4 separate regions of the Homo sapiens genome follow, and regions 2, 3 and 4 are each reported to be linked to region 1. The links are microRNA targets in miRTarBase. Many come from high-throughput screens and were not tested one by one. Region 1 holds a microRNA gene; each other region holds the end of a gene's coding sequence. Distances are from middle to middle.
What was found. The annotated mature microRNA hsa-miR-6807-3p reads CACUGCAUUCCUGCUUGGCCCAG and lies in region 1 at 1,501-1,523, opposite strand. An mRNA with a match to its seed (bases 2 to 7 or 8) in the 3' UTR can be bound and repressed. Matches are read on the target gene's strand: a 7mer-m8 pairs with bases 2 to 8, a 7mer-A1 pairs with bases 2 to 7 and ends in A, and an 8mer does both.

Region 1 (4,146 bases):
CCCACCCAAGGCCCAGCCACAGCTCCAAGCCCTCCCTTTCCCTGCATTACTCCCCTCCGCTGCCTGACCCCACCTGCTCAAACCCCCACTTTCTCTGCAGACCTCCCCTCAACTGGGGGCTCGCTTAGTGTGGCTGCTGGTGGGAAAAAAGCAGAGGCCGCAGCCTCAGCCCTAGCTGATGCTGATGCAGACCTGGAGGAACGGCTTAAGAACCTGCGGAGGGACTGAGTGCCCCTGCCACTCCGAGATAACCAGTGGATGCCCAGGATCTTTTACCACAACCCCTCTGTAATAAAAGAGATTTGACACTAGTCTCCAGGCCCATGTGACTTTTGGCCTGATGTGGGACCAGACTGGGGTCCCTGGGAGGATGGGCATCACTAAGGCAAGAGGCACTTGGTACTAAGCTAAGGGTGGGGGTTTGGGGCAGGGGTGAACAAGCAAAGTCCACCTGGGATTTTCAGGAGCTGGGAGCTTCAGGTGAGCTGTGGGCCCTTCTCCATCACCTCTCCCAAGATACTGGACTGCCCAAACACCCTGGTAGGATCTTGAGAGTCCAGGCCTCATCTGCCAGGCTGTAGTGTCCAACACTGTTTGGTCCAGTGATGGTTTAATGACAACACTCAAGGACAGTCCAGACCAACCAATAGAGGCAAGGGGGTGGCCTTGGGATTCACACAGGCTCGACTGTAGAGTAACTAAATCATAACACAGAGATGAATGATAATGTTAAGTGGACTCAGCAAAGGGAGACAGGGAAAAAAACCACATCTGGAAGGTCTCAGTTCACTGTGGGACCTTCTGAAGATGAGAAACAGCTACAGCACCAAAATTTAGGAAGCATTCAGTAGAGTGGCTGTGCTACACCTGGGGCTAACCCTGCCTACACAGGGATGTAGGTCACACCTACCCAGTATCCCACAGGGTACCCAACAAGCCTCTAGTGTGTACATCCTTTGCCCTGGGTGACCCTCCCCATACCCAGAAAGGGCAAGGAGGCAGTCTTCCCCACTCCCTAGGCATCCATACACATGGGCTTCGATAGGTGGGGGACAAGACCCCCCTCCCTTGTGCCACCAGTGCTTGATAAGGCTGACTAGTAGATACAGTCAATAAACCAGGCCCCAGGACCACAGTCCCCCAACCAGCCAACGCCTGAGGAACTGGTGAAGTTTTTATTAAATCCACAGAAGTAAAAACCATATCGTGAGGAACTGGGGGATGGGGCCACCAGGGAGTGGGAGTCAGGCCACCAGGGGAGTGGGGATGGGGTGACAGGACAGAGAACAGAGCCAGGCTGGGCTGGCCATGGGGGCTCCAGCCTCAGGGGCCATCACCAGGGCCACCAGACAGCTCCTGGGAACTCAGGCCAGCACCAGGCAGGCTCATCGGCGGGGGCTCCACCAGCACAGCAGAGAACTTGGTGTCACCGAAGGCCTCGTTCATGCGCGTCTCGAAGAAGCGCTGCAGGCCGATGATGGACTGCACGTCTGCCTTGTCCTGGGCCAAGCAGGAATGCAGTGGATGAATGGGTCCTAGTTCTTTCCTTCACATCTCCCCCTGCCCACAGCCTCTCCATTCCACTGGCTCACCTCAGTTAACTTGTTGAATTGCTTGAACATGCGGCCCACATCCTGGGCAAACTCCTGTGGGGAGCTGTAGGGAGGTGACAACTTCTCCTGGAGGCGGGCACGGATCAGGGTCAGATCCAGGGTGCCACCGGGCTGGTCCTGCAGGCAGAGATCACACATACACACACAAAGACACACATATACATGCACAGGTTGAGGGCGAGACCCAGCAGCCACCACCCCCTTCCCCTTTCCCATCCTAGGACTCACCAGGGAGAAGGTGGAGTCGGTAGCCAGCTGATGCAGGGGGCGGCAGGGTTCGTGACAGAATAGGGCCAGCAGTACACGCTCACATTTCTACAAACATTGTAAGGGATGTCACAGCTCTGGGCAGCACCTATAAAGCCTCTCTGGGCAACCCCACCTAAGTAACCCCAGCCCTCACCCGCTGGTTGGCTGGTGAGAGCTTGGCCACCACGCCAGTGCTGTCTGCACCATCCAGGCTGAGGCTGCCATCCTCCTCCTTCAGGTCAGGGAGCACATGGCAGAGTGAGCAGCTCCACTCCTCCCTAGGGTGAAGAAAATAAGGGTCTGCACATGATCCTGTCCAGACAGCCCAACACCCAGACTTGACCCCCACCAGCCTCACACTCACCCTGGTACATCCTGCAGGGCCGGCAGGTGACAGTCCAGGTGGAAACAAAACTCACACTGGTTGCACATAACCAGATCGCCTGGCTTCTGGCAGACACGGCAAATGGTGGCACTGTCATCCAGGGTTCCCGGGCCACCACCTGGGGCTGAGGTACCCTCAGGAGCCACCACCTCCAGCCCTGAGCTGGTGCTGCCACTAGGTGAGGCCAGGCGGGGACCCTCAGCACCAGGACCCTCCGCAAGAGCCATAAGCACAGGTTTGGTCTCAGGGCCCTCAGTGGCAGTAGGAGGGGCTCCAATGGCAGCCTCCGTCTCCTCCTCCTGCAAGGTGGTGATGAGGGGTGTTCAACAGGGTCCAGACCTGGACTACAGGCTTCATCCTACAGCTATAGTTCCTTGGGACAGGCTTACCTTGACAATGGCCATGCCAGCCAGGGGTGGGGCACCAGGGGTTCCTGCAGGCGCAGTCCCTGGCTGGCCGGTAGCTGCAGCGGCAGCGCCACGTTCAATAACAATAAGGTTGTAGTCCTCAGTGGTACTGCCTGGGAAGACCTTGAAGACGGGTGGCTGGCTGTCAGCTGTGAGGTCCAGGTCCAGGCGTTCAAGGCTCACTCGTGGCACCTTGCGCATAAGGCCGCTCACCTCGCCCTCACCTGAGCGGGACCTGTAGATGCAGCAACCTGGCATGAGTACACCCCCACCCTCCATCCACCTCACCCCCAGGGGAGGTGCCATACTTACCGTTTCACACCTGACACATGGGGCTCTGCACTTGAGTAGGGATCATCTCCTTAGAAAATGGAGAAAGAAGACTGGCAGGTTGGGGTAGAAACAGCACTGGGGCCCTTCCCCACCCACTAGGCAGACCCACTCACCTGACCCAAAGCCATAGCCTTCCTGCACCTCCATGGGCTGTGAACAAAGCAGAACCCTCTGCCTCAGTGGGACAGGAACCCTACTGGACCCCATTCCCTGCCCACCCCCCCTGCCTGGGTCCTCTCTCCTGCTACTGGACCCCATTCCCTGCCCACCCCTTCCTGGGTCCTCTCTCCTGCTCACCTGGCTGCTGCCAGAGCCCTGCTTGCTCAGGGGCCCTGGGGCTCTTGGAGGGGCCATGGGTGCAGGGCCTGTTGAGTTAGTGCCAGGACGCTCTGCCACAATCTTGCCTGCAAAAAGAAGAGAGAAACGTAAGTAGGTGCAGCACGTGGGGTAATAACAGAGTGAGGTAAAGCTGGGGACCCACCAAAGGCCTCGGCACTCTTGGTCCAGGCATTGAGGTCCCACTGAAACTTCATCTCGCCATGTGGCTCCACGGGATCCACAATCATCTTGAGGGCCCGGTGCAGCTGGAAGTAGATCTGGTTGGGAGTGAAAGGGAGGAAAGAATGAGCACACCAACAACAAATAGGGATTTGAGGTATTGGGAACCACCTGCCTGGAACCCACCAGCCAGGAGCCCACCAGTACACACCAACTTCTTAGAAAGCAAAAGGGCTGTGTTGTTGTCACTCTCCAGAGCCCAAGAGGCAAAGCGCAGAATGTGCTCCTGGTGCTTCTGGATCTTGGTCATGGTCCAGTGCTGCCGCTCCAGGCGCTCCTGCTGCCCCTCAGTCACCTTCTGCAGATAGAAGGTGTATGAGGTAAGCAGAGAAGGCAGAAGAATACTAGGATCACTCCTCACCCCAGACAGCATCATCAATCAGCAGAGGGGGCTCAGGGACCCTTCTCACCGGCACAAGGCTTACCTGGGCATCATTGACCAGCACACGGCCCCGCTTATTCAGCTCCTTCATGATCTGCAGGATGGCCATCTTGACATCCACTTGCACACGCTTCTGTACGTCAGACACCTGGCGGATTCTAGGGGACACAGCAGGTCAGGCTAGGTAGGGTCTTGCTGCCCTGGGCCACCCCCACAGCC
Region 2 (4,000 bases), 2.1 Mb from region 1:
AACCTTATGAATGTAAAGTATGTAGGAAAGCCTTCAGCCAAATTGCATACCTTGATCAACATCAGAGGGTTCATACTGGAGAGAAACCCTATGAATGTATTGAATGTGGGAAGGCCTTTAGCAATAGTTCATCACTTGCACAACATCAGAGAAGTCATACTGGAGAAAAACCCTATATGTGTAAGGAATGTAGGAAAACATTTAGCCAGAATGCAGGCCTTGCTCAACATCAGAGAATTCATACTGGAGAGAAACCTTATGAATGTAATGTTTGTGGGAAAGCATTTAGCTATAGTGGATCTCTTACTCTACATCAGAGAATTCATACTGGAGAAAGACCCTATGAATGTAAAGATTGCAGGAAATCTTTCAGGCAGCGTGCACATCTTGCTCATCATGAGAGAATTCATACTATGGAGTCATTCTTGACTCTTTCCTCTCCCTCACCCTCCACATCAAATCAGTTGCCAAGACCTGTAGGTTTCATCTCCTGAATATTTCTGGAATCCACCTCTTGAATCCATTTCCATCCCATCATCCTTGTCCAATGCACATTAATATATTTGACATGGGATACTCGAGTAGCTTTCTAATTGGTCTCCTTGTACTCACCATTGTCTCTGTCAGATGTCCACATTGCAACCAAATTTGTATTTTTAAAAATATGTTTAATCTCATTTCTCCCTCATTAAAATCCCTCAGTGGCATCCCATGGTTTTTAAGTTAAAGCACACATTCTTCAAAATAGCCTAAAAACCTAGCCTCTAACACCTTGTTCCAGGTTACCTTCCAAAGTTTCTATCTTGTGTCACTATCCATCTCATTCTCTGAATACTTATCCAGGATTAAGATACATATTCCAGGATCAAAAAGACCTGGGTTCCAATCTTTGCACTTCCATTTCCTGCCCTCTAATTTGGGGGCAGCAGTTTGTGCTTTGTAAGCTTCAGTCTTATTTATAGTGTGGGAATAATAATGGTTCTACCTCAGAAGTTAATAGAAGAATGAAATAATGCATGTAAATTGCTCAGCAGCGTGCCTAGCATAAAGTAATTACTCAAACCATAATGTAAAGTAAAAAGATAACCATACTATACATAGAAAGCCAATCATCTCAGCCATGATTATCTCAGAAATAAAAAGAGATGCAGCAGCTCAGGACTGAGAGATTGTGAAGTTTTTTTTTTTTTAGGAATGGTAGGCATTTTTCTAAAAGTAGGTGAGGAGGGTATCTAACAGTAGGATTTACATTAGAGTCCATGATATAGGGTAAGATGGTGGCTTGTATCAGCATTCACTGGATATTTAACAGTTCTAAGATGCTAATGTCTTATTTTAAAAGTCTTTTTTTTTGAGATGGAGTCTTGCTCTGTTGCTCAGGCTTGAGTGCAGTAGTGCAATCTTGGCTCACTGCAACCTCCGCCTCCTGTGTTCAAGTGATTCTCCTGCCTCAGCCTCCTGAGTAGCTGGGATTACAGGCCTGCACCACCACGCCCAGCTAATTTTTGTATTTTTAGTAGAGAGAGGGTTTTGACATGTCGGCCAGGCTTTTCTCTAACTCCTGACGTCCGGTGATCCGCCTGCCTTGGCCTCCCAAAGTGCTGGGATTACATGCGTGAGCTACCGTGCCTGGCCTAAAAAGTCATTTTTAATAAGACAGTTTACTGAGATGTATTCATCATTTACATGTAAACAAAGGCAAAATCGAAATTAAAAAGAAATCTTGAAACAAGTCAGTAACCAATGATGAGTAGAAAATAAAGTATAAGTTTGAACCCCTGTTCTAAATCTGGGTGAATGAATTATATCAAATCTATGTCATTTAAAATAATAAAGGTTGTTAAATTACTAAAATTTCAAAACTAGTGAAGAAAAGAAACCAAAACTGTAGGTCAGTTCTCATAAACTGGCCCACAAACATGTTTGATTCTGTATGCATTAAGTTTAAAATACATATGAATACCTTCAGCAGACCATGTGTTTTCCCTTTCTCCAACATTCAAACCACTCCCTGATTCTTTACATCTGACCTCTTTTAATATTACTTCCTGACCCCAGAATTCTTTTGGCATATAATCAATGCAGTGATCAATTCACATGTGACTATAGATACAAACAGAATGACGAAAGTTTAATGGAGGATGAAAAAGAAGACAAATAAATATTTTATCCTTTATATGGTAAGACAGATTCACTATCATACTGATGTCAGTAGCCCATGAATTAATTTACAGATTCTACCTAACAAAATTCTAATAAATTTTGTAAGGTTTTAACATGTATGTGTGAACATACATATTCATGCTGTTACACATATAAAGAAAATTATAACAAAAGTGACCTATACCATCAGTGGTTTAACAGTTTTGGAAAAATTTATCGTGCTCTATACAACAATTCATTCCATATGTGAAAGTTACTTTCAAGTGCTTTATCTAAATGTGGAACAAACAGTGATTAGAGGAGTCTGTGACACACTCTAATCATGGAATGAGACTGGCCTTCCTAAACATGAGATTCAGAAGCCTCCCCACCTCCTGTCAACAAGTCATAGATTTGACTGTATAAGAACTTTATAAAGCTTTTATATGATCAAAGATAGTAAAAGATACAATATTTTTTAAACCTAAGAATGGGAGAAAATTATTGCAGCACATATAAACTATGGAATTCATATCCTTAACATAAAATTGCTCATAAAAATCCCTTAGGAAATGACGCTTTTCTCCAGCTCATAGTCAAAGGATATGAAGAGGCAACAGGTGACCAATAAATATGTGGTAAGTACTAAATCTCCCTAGGATCAGAAGAAATACAGTTTAGGCCAATGAAATACTATTTTTTTCAATATCAGATTAATAAAACTGCATTGAAAGCATACAAAAAGAGATACTATGCACTAATTTAAAAGAGCATGAGTTTGTACAAACTCTGGTAGGCAATTTGTCAACTTCAGAATTTTAATTGGGAAAAGTAGAATTTTATTTTGAAGTTCAAAAACTCGGCACACAATGTCTTTCCCTCCAGATTCTATTATACACATAGAACAATGTAAATGATTCTTAAAAAAAAAAAAAAGGTGAGGCTTTTGAGTGGATGAAATAATTTTGTAAAAGGCAAAACAGGGAAGAGTGTTCATGAATTGTAGCAGAAGATGCTGCATGTTATATGCGAATGACCGAAGGGTTTTAAAAATGGAATCTAGTCTGCCCAAAGGATCCCTAGAGAAGTTCAGGCTTGGAGTTGGCTTATGTACAGGCTGTGGCTTCTAAGAAGACATGATGAAAAGCCTCTTGAAGCCTTTGTATGTGAAAGTTATGTCAGTAGCCCTTGCCAAAAGCCTCCTCACTCTCCCCTCTCTTGTATAAGTAAATTGAATGGGATCCTTATTTCACACCATTAACAAGTATAAGTTCTAACTGAATAAAAATCTAAATGTAAATTACTAAAGCAAAAGTATTAGAAAAAATATAGTGGGATATGTTAACGACTTTGGTGTCAGACACGTGTTTCTAAAATATTCAAATACCATAAAGGAAAAGATTGATAAAATTGACTGTGTCAAAAAATAGTGTGCTTTGGCTGGGTGCGGTGGTTCACACCTGTAATCCCAGCACTTCGGGAGACTGAGGCAGGTGGATCATGAGGTCATGAGTTCAAAACCAGCCTGGCCAAGATGGTGAAACCCCATCTCTACTAAAAATACAAAAAATTAGCTGGGTGTGGTGGCAGGCATCTGTGATCCCAGCTACTTGAGAGGCTGAGGCAGGAGAATCACTTGAACCATGTGGCAGAGGTTGCAGTGAGCCAAGATCATGCCACTGCACTCCAGCCTGGGCGATAGAGTGAGACTCTGTCTCAAAAAAAAAAAAAAATTATTGTGCTTTTGGCCAGGCATGGTGGCTCACGCCTGTAATCCTAGCACGTTGGGAGGCCGAGGCGGGTGGATCACCTGACCTCAGGAGTTAGAGACCAGCCTGATCAACATGGTGAAACCCTG
Region 3 (4,000 bases), not on the chromosome of region 1:
AAAATAATTTTCAGTGGTTAAGTGGAAGATTTACAAATATCCATTAAAAAAGTACCCTCTGGATAAAATAATCAGAAATAAAATAAATTAGCCACTTCTGATCACTGCATTCCCCAAAGTCTCTGAAAATGGTTTGCACTTTAGACTGTCATGATTTGCAGATATTTACATGACGCAGGTTTCCAACACAGAAAAATGAAGACTAACACTGAGTAACAGATTAGTACAATGCAGAGGAAAATAGAGCAAATGAAAATAGCTATCATCTGGTAGCAAAAATAGATTTATGCCGGTGTTAATATCAAAATAAAGACATTCAAACAAATTATGCCAATACATTGGAACTATTATTCCTAAGACCATAAGGACACCTTCTTATTGCTTCTACTCATAACTAAAAGGTCTGCGGAGATTCTGTAGTAGCCAGAAGGCATAACTTGTAGTGTATGTAGTAGGGGCTACATCAAGGTTCAACAGCCAAATAAAAACTTTATTACTTTTTAGGCTTGACATCTTTAACAGTAGAACAAGATCACTCATGATAAATCTGGAAGATGCAGATGGAAGACAGTGCTTGAAGCCCAAACAAATGATTTACTACAAGTAATTAAAAGCAGAATATGAGAAAAGCAGCAGTGTAAATGACGTAAACATTAAAAAATATATTAGTTTGTATATTTCCCCCAGGAAGTCTCACAGGAAGCACAGGACACCTGTGCGGCTGTTTGGGCATCCTGGGTACTTCTTGCCCTCAGGTGAACTCCCATCTCTTTAGTTAGGACCAGAATCCACCTGGCTTGTAGGAGAGGAACTACATGGAGAAGCTGCATTGAGGCTTTTATTATTAATACCTATGACTCAAGGAATACCAGCCTTGGGGTGCTTTGGGGCCTGGGGAGGGAAGTGACTGGCTCTCCTGCTACACTGGAGACTGTTAGCTCATTTCTGAATGGATTTCCTGCAGCGTGGGGTAGTCGACAGCTGTGACAGGAACATTACCTGAAGTGCAGGGTGGTTACCTGCACAAAGTCCCATTTCCAAAAATTTCTGTGTAATTCACCAGAAATTTTGGATGGAATAATTAGAAAAAAAAAAGAGGTTAAAACATGTAACTCAAATGGTACAGTGATTAGCATTATTTAACCAGGAGATTTAAAGTCCAGAAAATTAAATTCTACCTTGGTTCTTCCCAAATGATGCCACGTTTCTGTTTTCTTCCTCTTAAAACTATAAAATGTCCTAGAGACATACATTTGGGGGAAAGATGCTTTTGAGAAAAGGGACAGAAGGAGAAAAGAAGTCATTTCCCCCTCAAGATAGTTTTAAGCTTATAATATCAGGATGCATCACCAAGCTGTTTAAATTTCAGAAAAGCCCTTTATAGATGCTAGTACTGACTAGATTTTAAAATCTGCATATAGTTCTCTATCATATTTTAATTCGTTCCCACCCCCATCTCAAATAAGATGACTACAGACGTAATGTTTCATCCAGTTGTCCCTGGGACTCTAAAATAAAGCATAAGGGCAAGTGAAATAACATTAGGATAATTAAAGATTTTCCAAATGCCACATGACAGTGCTACGTCCATTCAGGCTGTGCATTTTGTTTTCGTTGCTTCTTTCTTTTTTGAGCCAGTCTCTGGAGCAGGCCAATTTAACAGCCAATATTACCACGATTCTACATTTATCCTCACACTGTGGAAACTACATTTGTTTTCCCCTTGAGTGCCCTTAAATCTACAGCCTGCTTCCTCATGTCTGTGAGCAGAATTTGGATAAATGCTTGAGATGGAAAGAACAAAGCATACACCAAAGAATCTGACTGTGTCATTCAACTGCTTAGAAATGGAAATGATATTCACATTGTGTTCATCTTGGCATCTCGATAAAATGAATCCAATATTTAATGAGTTGTTTTAAAATGCCAGTCACGTGCAGATTCCAGAAGGCTACACATCCACTTTAAATAACTCTCCATTTTGAAAATGCAATATTGTCCAACTGGTTATTTGGTGTGACAATGAAAAATCATGCATTCTTTTCCTGTAATTATTTTACTCTTCATTCATAACATTCGATATGCTCTGAATTTCTTTAAGTATCTCAAAGTGTTTTCTGGAGAAATCTTTTTACTACATCATTATACTTGATATTCCATAGCATTGCTATGGACTTTAGAATAAGAGGCTTAACAATTAGGCTTTGGTTTTAATGTCATCTGGACAGAAGTTGGACATGCTTTGATAACACAATTCAACTACTACACATATTATTGTAATGTGAAATAACACATTTAAAAAGACGAAGGTTCCCCTTTCAGTAGTTATAATCTGTATTATTCAAGACTGCTGCAAAACTCACAAAAGAATGATATGGATAACAAGAAAGTATAGGAAAGGGGTAAGACACTCACTTAAAGCTTTACCAGAACACAACACAAAGCAAGAACATCAATTCTCTACATTTGTCTATAAGGCAGATGGCAACTTTTTATACAAGATCTAAAATATGGTGCTTATTAAGAGGTAGAAAATACTAAAACAGCATTTAAGAAAAACATGTTGAGTTATCCAAAACAATCAGTTATTTTGCTAAACTTTTACAAAGTCAAACTGCTGTGTGGAATAAACTGTATGTTTTATATTAAACTGGGACATTCCATACTCAACAGGGAGGTGATCAAACGGAGGGACAAAAAACGGGGTGGGGTGGGAAGCAGGAAACAGTCTCTTAACTTCTCAAGGACTCAGCTCTCACTAAGGAGAAATTTCCTACTGTCTCTCTGGGATGCTATTGTGATATTTAATTAATTGGAATTCTTTTCTCTTATGAATAATTTCTCTGAGCAACAGGGTACAATTTTGCATATAAGGCAATAGAACTATAGGGAGGAACAAGTTCAAATGCTTCCTTTTCAAGAAGGTGCCGTATACGTCTTATATAAAAATATACATTCCATTAATCTTATATCCTCTCCCTAACCACTAAAATGCAAATGAAAATATTCTTCAGACTCCAGCACCAGCAGAATTGTTCTGTATGAGCAATTCAAGAGCTGTCTGAGGCAAAAAGATATTTCAGCTACCAAATTAAACTTGGGTAGCTTACGCATGGGTGAGTAACCCTGGGAATTCTTATTTCTTAATGCACCTGGGAGAGGTTGATTTTTTTTCTACAACATAATTTTATAAGGCATAAATTTAATTGGAATCTTCCCTAACCTTTGGAAAATTAGTGTTAAAGCTTCTTTTTTTAACCCACACATGAACATTCAATCTTTCATTTTTATTAAATAGTTTATATATAAAAAGAAATGTCAAGGTGTTCTACATTCATATAAACAATCAGGGTAACATTTGAAATTGTAAAGAAACGCACTGAGGAAAATATAGACTTAAAGAGTTACAATGCTAAGCTAAGCACAAGTGATCATCCTAGAGTATCTTTTAAATATATAAACACAGGTTTGTGCCACTTCAGAAGGCAAGCACAGGAGAAATACACTAATGTTATCTTTCTTCTTTACTTTTTCACCATAAGACAGGATGGTCCAGTTTGGAAAAACCAAGATCTTTTCTAAGTTCCAAATAGGTGCCGTTGCTCACCCAAGAGTCATCGTCGGATTTCCTGTGAAAGAAGAAACAATTTCTTGCAGACTCTTGAAACCAGCGTCACATTCTCAAGTCTCTTTCCTTCCTAACCTCCCTGCTTTCCCCATCCTCATTCCCACATGCATTCAGCGTCCCAGAGTGTTGGGACCGGGAATTCTGGGAATTAGATGTCCAGAAATAATTTTGTTACTTTTTTTTTTTTTTTTTTTTTGAGATGGAGGCTCGCTCTGTCATCCAGGCTGGAGTGTAGTGGCATGATCTTGGCTCACTGCAACCTCTGCTTCCCAGGTTCAATCGATTCTCCTGCCTCAGCCTCCCGAGTAGCTGGGACTACAGCCATGTGCAACCATGCCCGACTAATTTTTGTATTTTTAGTAGAGACGGGGT
Region 4 (4,000 bases), not on the chromosome of region 1:
GGGATGGCCTGAGGAGTGCGGCTGGATGTCCATTATAGGATGGGGCTGTGTTCCCTGGCCAGTGTGTGCTGGTGGGGTGGGGGTACAAAGTGGGTGTTCTGGAGTGAACATCTCACCTCCTCAGGCTCTAAACCCTAAGGCCTGTGGCTCAGGGAGTGGCCCGAGGGGTCTACAGAGTCACACTGGTAGCACCCACTAGGCGGGAGGTGGAGTGAGTGCTGTTCTTTCCCGGAAGAGCTGGGTGTGGGGAGCTGAGGGGGCCCAGGCCTCAGCCCTGGTGCTGTCCCTGTGACAGGCCCTCGGGGTGTGTGGGACCATGTCCAGCCCTCTCCAGTGTATCCACAGCCCCGACCTTTGATGAGAACTCAGCTGTCCAGGTGAGTCCAGGCCCCCAGTTGCGGGGAGGTAAGGGGGCAGGTCCTGACCATCAGGGCATGGGAGGCCCTTCTGCTCCCCAAGCAGGAAGAGGCGGCCACTCCTGCCGGCTGCTCCATCCTCCCTCTCACCGCACAGCTGGAGGCTCCTGAGGGCTTCTGGCTGGCCATCAGGAAAACACCCTTTCCGGACCCCGAGCACTGCCCCGCCCAGAACCCCAGTCACTGAGTGCCCAACCCCCAGCTTCCCCCCCAACCCCCCGCCCTGCCCTGTCCCAGGCCTCCCTCTCAGAGCTTGCCCCAGGGACTCTCTGGCCCTCAGGGTTCAATGTATTCTGACCAAGGCCAAGCTTTCCTGGGGCTCAGGGAAAATCACACTTTGCTACCCGAAGCTGTATCCCCTCAGATGCCAGGAAGGCCGTGATCATCTGACTCCACCCTCCTGAGACACATTCTCTCCCTGACTGTCCTGTTCTAAGTCAGCGGAGCACCTTAGGATGGAGGGGTGGAGGCGAGGCCAGATGCAGCCTCTGTGAACAGGTGCCTGGAGGCTGGGAAATGACCCTGAGAGGGCAGGACACAGCAACCGTGGGCTTAAGGTGACCTTGAGAGCAAGCTTGGCCCACTTTACAATTCTGTTCAGAGCCAGCCCCTAACATGGTGGTCATTTATTCATTTGTTCCCTCATTTTAAAAAATGTAAGGCCAGGCATGGTGGCTCACGCCGGTAATCCCAGCACTTTGGGAGGCCGAGGCAGGCAGATCACCTGAGGTCAGGAGTTCGAGACTAGCCTGGCCAACATGGCGAAACCCTGTCTCTACTAAAAATATTTTTTAAAAATTAGCTGAGCATGGTGGCAGGTGCCTGTAATCCCAGCTACTCAGGACGCTTAGGCAGGAGAATCACTTGAACCTGGGAGGCGAAGGTTGCGGTGTGCCGAGATCGTGCCACTGCACTCTAGCCTAGGCAACAGAGCACAACTCTGTCTCAGGAAAAAAAAAAAAAAAAAAAAGGTATTTCTTTGCTGGGCGCAGTGGCTCACACCTGTAATCCCAGCACTTTGGGAGACCGAGGCGAGTGGATCACTTGAGGTCAGGAGTTCAAGACCAGCCTTACCAACATGATGAAACCCCGTATCTACTAAAAAAAAAAAAAAAAAAAAAAAAAATTAGCCAGATGTGGTGGCACACACCTGTAATCCCAGCTACTTGGGAGGCTGAGGAGGAGAATTGCTTGAACCTGGGAGGCGGAGATTGCAGCGAGCCAAGATTGCGCCTCTGCACTCCAGCCTGGGTGACAGAGTGAGACTCCGTCTCAAAAAAAAAAAAAAAAAAGTAGTGGGTGCCTGTGGCCAGGCCACATCCTAGGGTAGGGGCTATGGCTGAGCCCTGCCCTCCTGGAGCTCACAGCCAAGTCCACTTCTTCCATCTGAGGCGGGGAAGCCAGCCCTGTTCCTGAAACCCTGCATCACAAGCCCCTGTGGGAGGCAGTGGGGAGGGGAGGTCCTCCCCCACTCAGACCTGACCCACAGGGACCAGTTTAATGTGTCCTTGCCCCAGTGATGACAGCTGGGGATCTGGGGGTGGGGAGTCACCCAGGACCCGGGCAGTCGCCTTTCCCCAGCTCCTAGGGCTCCCGGCCTTCCCTGCTGAAACAGCAAGACCAGTGGGTTGGCGTGGGAGGCCTGGGCTTCAAACCACCTCTGCTATCACCTGGCTGTGGGTCCCCAGGCAGGACATACACACAGTCCCTCTCTGGCCCTCATCCTCCTCAGCTGCAAAGGAAAAGCCAAGTGAGACGGGCTCTGGGACCATGGTGACCAGGCTCTTCCCCTGCTCCCTGGCCCTCGCCAGCTGCCAGGCTGAAAAGAAGCCTCAGCTCCCACACCGCCCTCCTCACCGCCCTTCCTCGGCAGTCACTTCCACTGGTGGACCACGGGCCCCCAGCCCTGTGTCGGCCTTGTCTGTCTCAGCTCAACCACAGTCTGACACCAGAGCCCACTTCCATCCTCTCTGGTGTGAGGCACAGCGAGGGCAGCATCTGGAGGAGCTCTGCAGCCTCCACACCTACCACGACCTCCCAGGGCTGGGCTCAGGAAAAACCAGCCACTGCTTTACAGGACAGGGGGTTGAAGCTGAGCCCCGCCTCACACCCACCCCCATGCACTCAAAGATTGGATTTTACAGCTACTTGCAATTCAAAATTCAGAAGAATAAAAAATGGGAACATACAGAACTCTAAAAGATAGACATCAGAAATTGTTAAGTTAAGCTTTTTCAAAAAATCAGCAATTCCCCAGCGTAGTCAAGGGTGGACACTGCACGCTCTGGCATGATGGGATGGCGACCGGGCAAGCTTTCTTCCTCGAGATGCTCTGCTGCTTGAGAGCTATTGCTTTGTTAAGATATAAAAAGGGGTTTCTTTTTGTCTTTCTGTAAGGTGGACTTCCAGCTTTTGATTGAAAGTCCTAGGGTGATTCTATTTCTGCTGTGATTTATCTGCTGAAAGCTCAGCTGGGGTTGTGCAAGCTAGGGACCCATTCCTGTGTAATACAATGTCTGCACCAATGCTAATAAAGTCCTATTCTCTTTTATGAGAAAGAAAAAGACACCGTCCTTTAAAGTGCTGCAGTATGGCCAGACGTGGTGGCTCACACCTGCAATCCCAGCACCTTAGGAGGCCGAGGCAGGAGGATCCTTGAGGTCAGGAGTTCGAGACCAGCCTCGCCAACATGGTGAAACCCCATTTCTACTAAAAATACAAAAAATTAGCCAAGTGTGGTGGCATATGCCTGTAATCCCAACTACTCAGAAGGCCGAGGCAGGAGAATTACTTGAACGCAGGAGAATCACTGCAGCCCAGGAGGCAGAGGTTGCAGTGAGCCGAGATTGCACCACTGCACTCCAGCCTGGGTGACAGAGCAAGACTCCATCTCAGTAAATAAATAAATAAATAAAAAGCGCTGCAGTAGCTGTGGCCTCACCCTGAAGTCAGCGGGCCCAGGCCTACCTCACTCTCTCCCTTGGCAGAGAAGCAGACGTCCATAGCTCCTCTCCCTCACAAGCGCTCCCAGCCTGCCCTCCAGCTGCTGCTCTCCCCTCCCAGTCTCTACTCACTGGGATGAGGTTAGGTCATGAGGACACCAAAAACCTAAAAATAAACAAAAAGCCAAACAAGCCTTAGCTTTTCTTAAAGACTGAAATGCCTGGAAGTGTCCCTTTATTTATAAAATAACTTTTGTCATATTTCTTATACATGTTTCTTGTAAGAAATTCAGAAACTACAGACAAAGAGAGTGGAAATTACCCACTGTCAGGCCTCTGAGCCCAAGCTAAGCCATCATATCCCCTGTGCCCTGCACGTATACACCCAGATGGCCTGAAGCAACTGAAGATCCACAAAAGAAGTGAAAATAGCCAGTTCCTGCCTTAACTGATGACATTCCACCATTGTGATTTGTTCCTGCCCCACCCTAACTGATCAATTGACCTTGTGACAATACACCTTCCCCACCCTTGAGAAGGTGCTTTGTAATATTCTCCCCACCCACCCCACGCCCGCACCCCCGCACCCTTAAGAAGGTATTTTGTAATATTCTCTCCGCCATTGAGAATGTGCTTTGTAAG

Region 2: the mRNA of ZNF583 is a reported target of hsa-miR-6807-3p. Seed matches in the 3' UTR shown: 7mer-A1 at 1,388-1,394 and 7mer-m8 at 2,080-2,086.
Region 3: the mRNA of OSBPL3 is a reported target of hsa-miR-6807-3p. Seed matches in the 3' UTR shown: 7mer-m8 at 104-110.
Region 4: the mRNA of SFTPB is a reported target of hsa-miR-6807-3p. Seed matches in the 3' UTR shown: 7mer-A1 at 3,001-3,007 and 7mer-A1 at 3,338-3,344.

Annotation. Positions count from the first base shown.
Region 1 is chr19:58,547,731-58,551,876 of GRCh38, reverse strand. It overlaps MIR6807 (microRNA 6807), which reads right to left and starts at 1,592; the gene lies at 1,501-1,592. It overlaps TRIM28 (tripartite motif containing 28), which reads right to left. Exons shown (of 17, transcript NM_005762.3): 6 at 3,971-4,085; 7 at 3,697-3,843; 8 at 3,469-3,583; 9 at 3,285-3,391; 10 at 3,101-3,137; 11 at 2,967-3,015; 12 at 2,637-2,889; 13 at 2,227-2,546; 14 at 2,017-2,140; 15 at 1,842-1,928; 16 at 1,593-1,730; 17 at 1,162-1,500. The coding sequence ends at 1,324. CHMP2A (charged multivesicular body protein 2A) reads left to right here. Exons shown (of 6, transcript NM_014453.4): 6 at 101-311. The coding sequence ends at 228.
Region 2 is chr19:56,423,875-56,427,874 of GRCh38, forward strand. ZNF583 (zinc finger protein 583) reads left to right here. Exons shown (of 5, transcript NM_152478.3): 5 at 1-3,490. The coding sequence ends at 494. Among named protein-coding and RNA genes, the nearest start is that of ZNF583, 22 kb to the left of the region's middle.
Region 3 is chr7:24,796,651-24,800,650 of GRCh38, forward strand. OSBPL3 (oxysterol binding protein like 3) reads right to left here. Exons shown (of 23, transcript NM_015550.4): 23 at 1-3,629. The coding sequence ends at 3,533. Among named protein-coding and RNA genes, the nearest start is that of GSDME, 41 kb to the left of the region's middle.
Region 4 is chr2:85,657,831-85,661,830 of GRCh38, reverse strand. It overlaps SFTPB (surfactant protein B), which reads left to right. Exons shown (of 11, transcript NM_000542.5): 10 at 296-377; 11 at 2,149-4,000. The coding sequence ends at 358. Among named protein-coding and RNA genes, the nearest start is that of SFTPB, 8.4 kb to the left of the region's middle.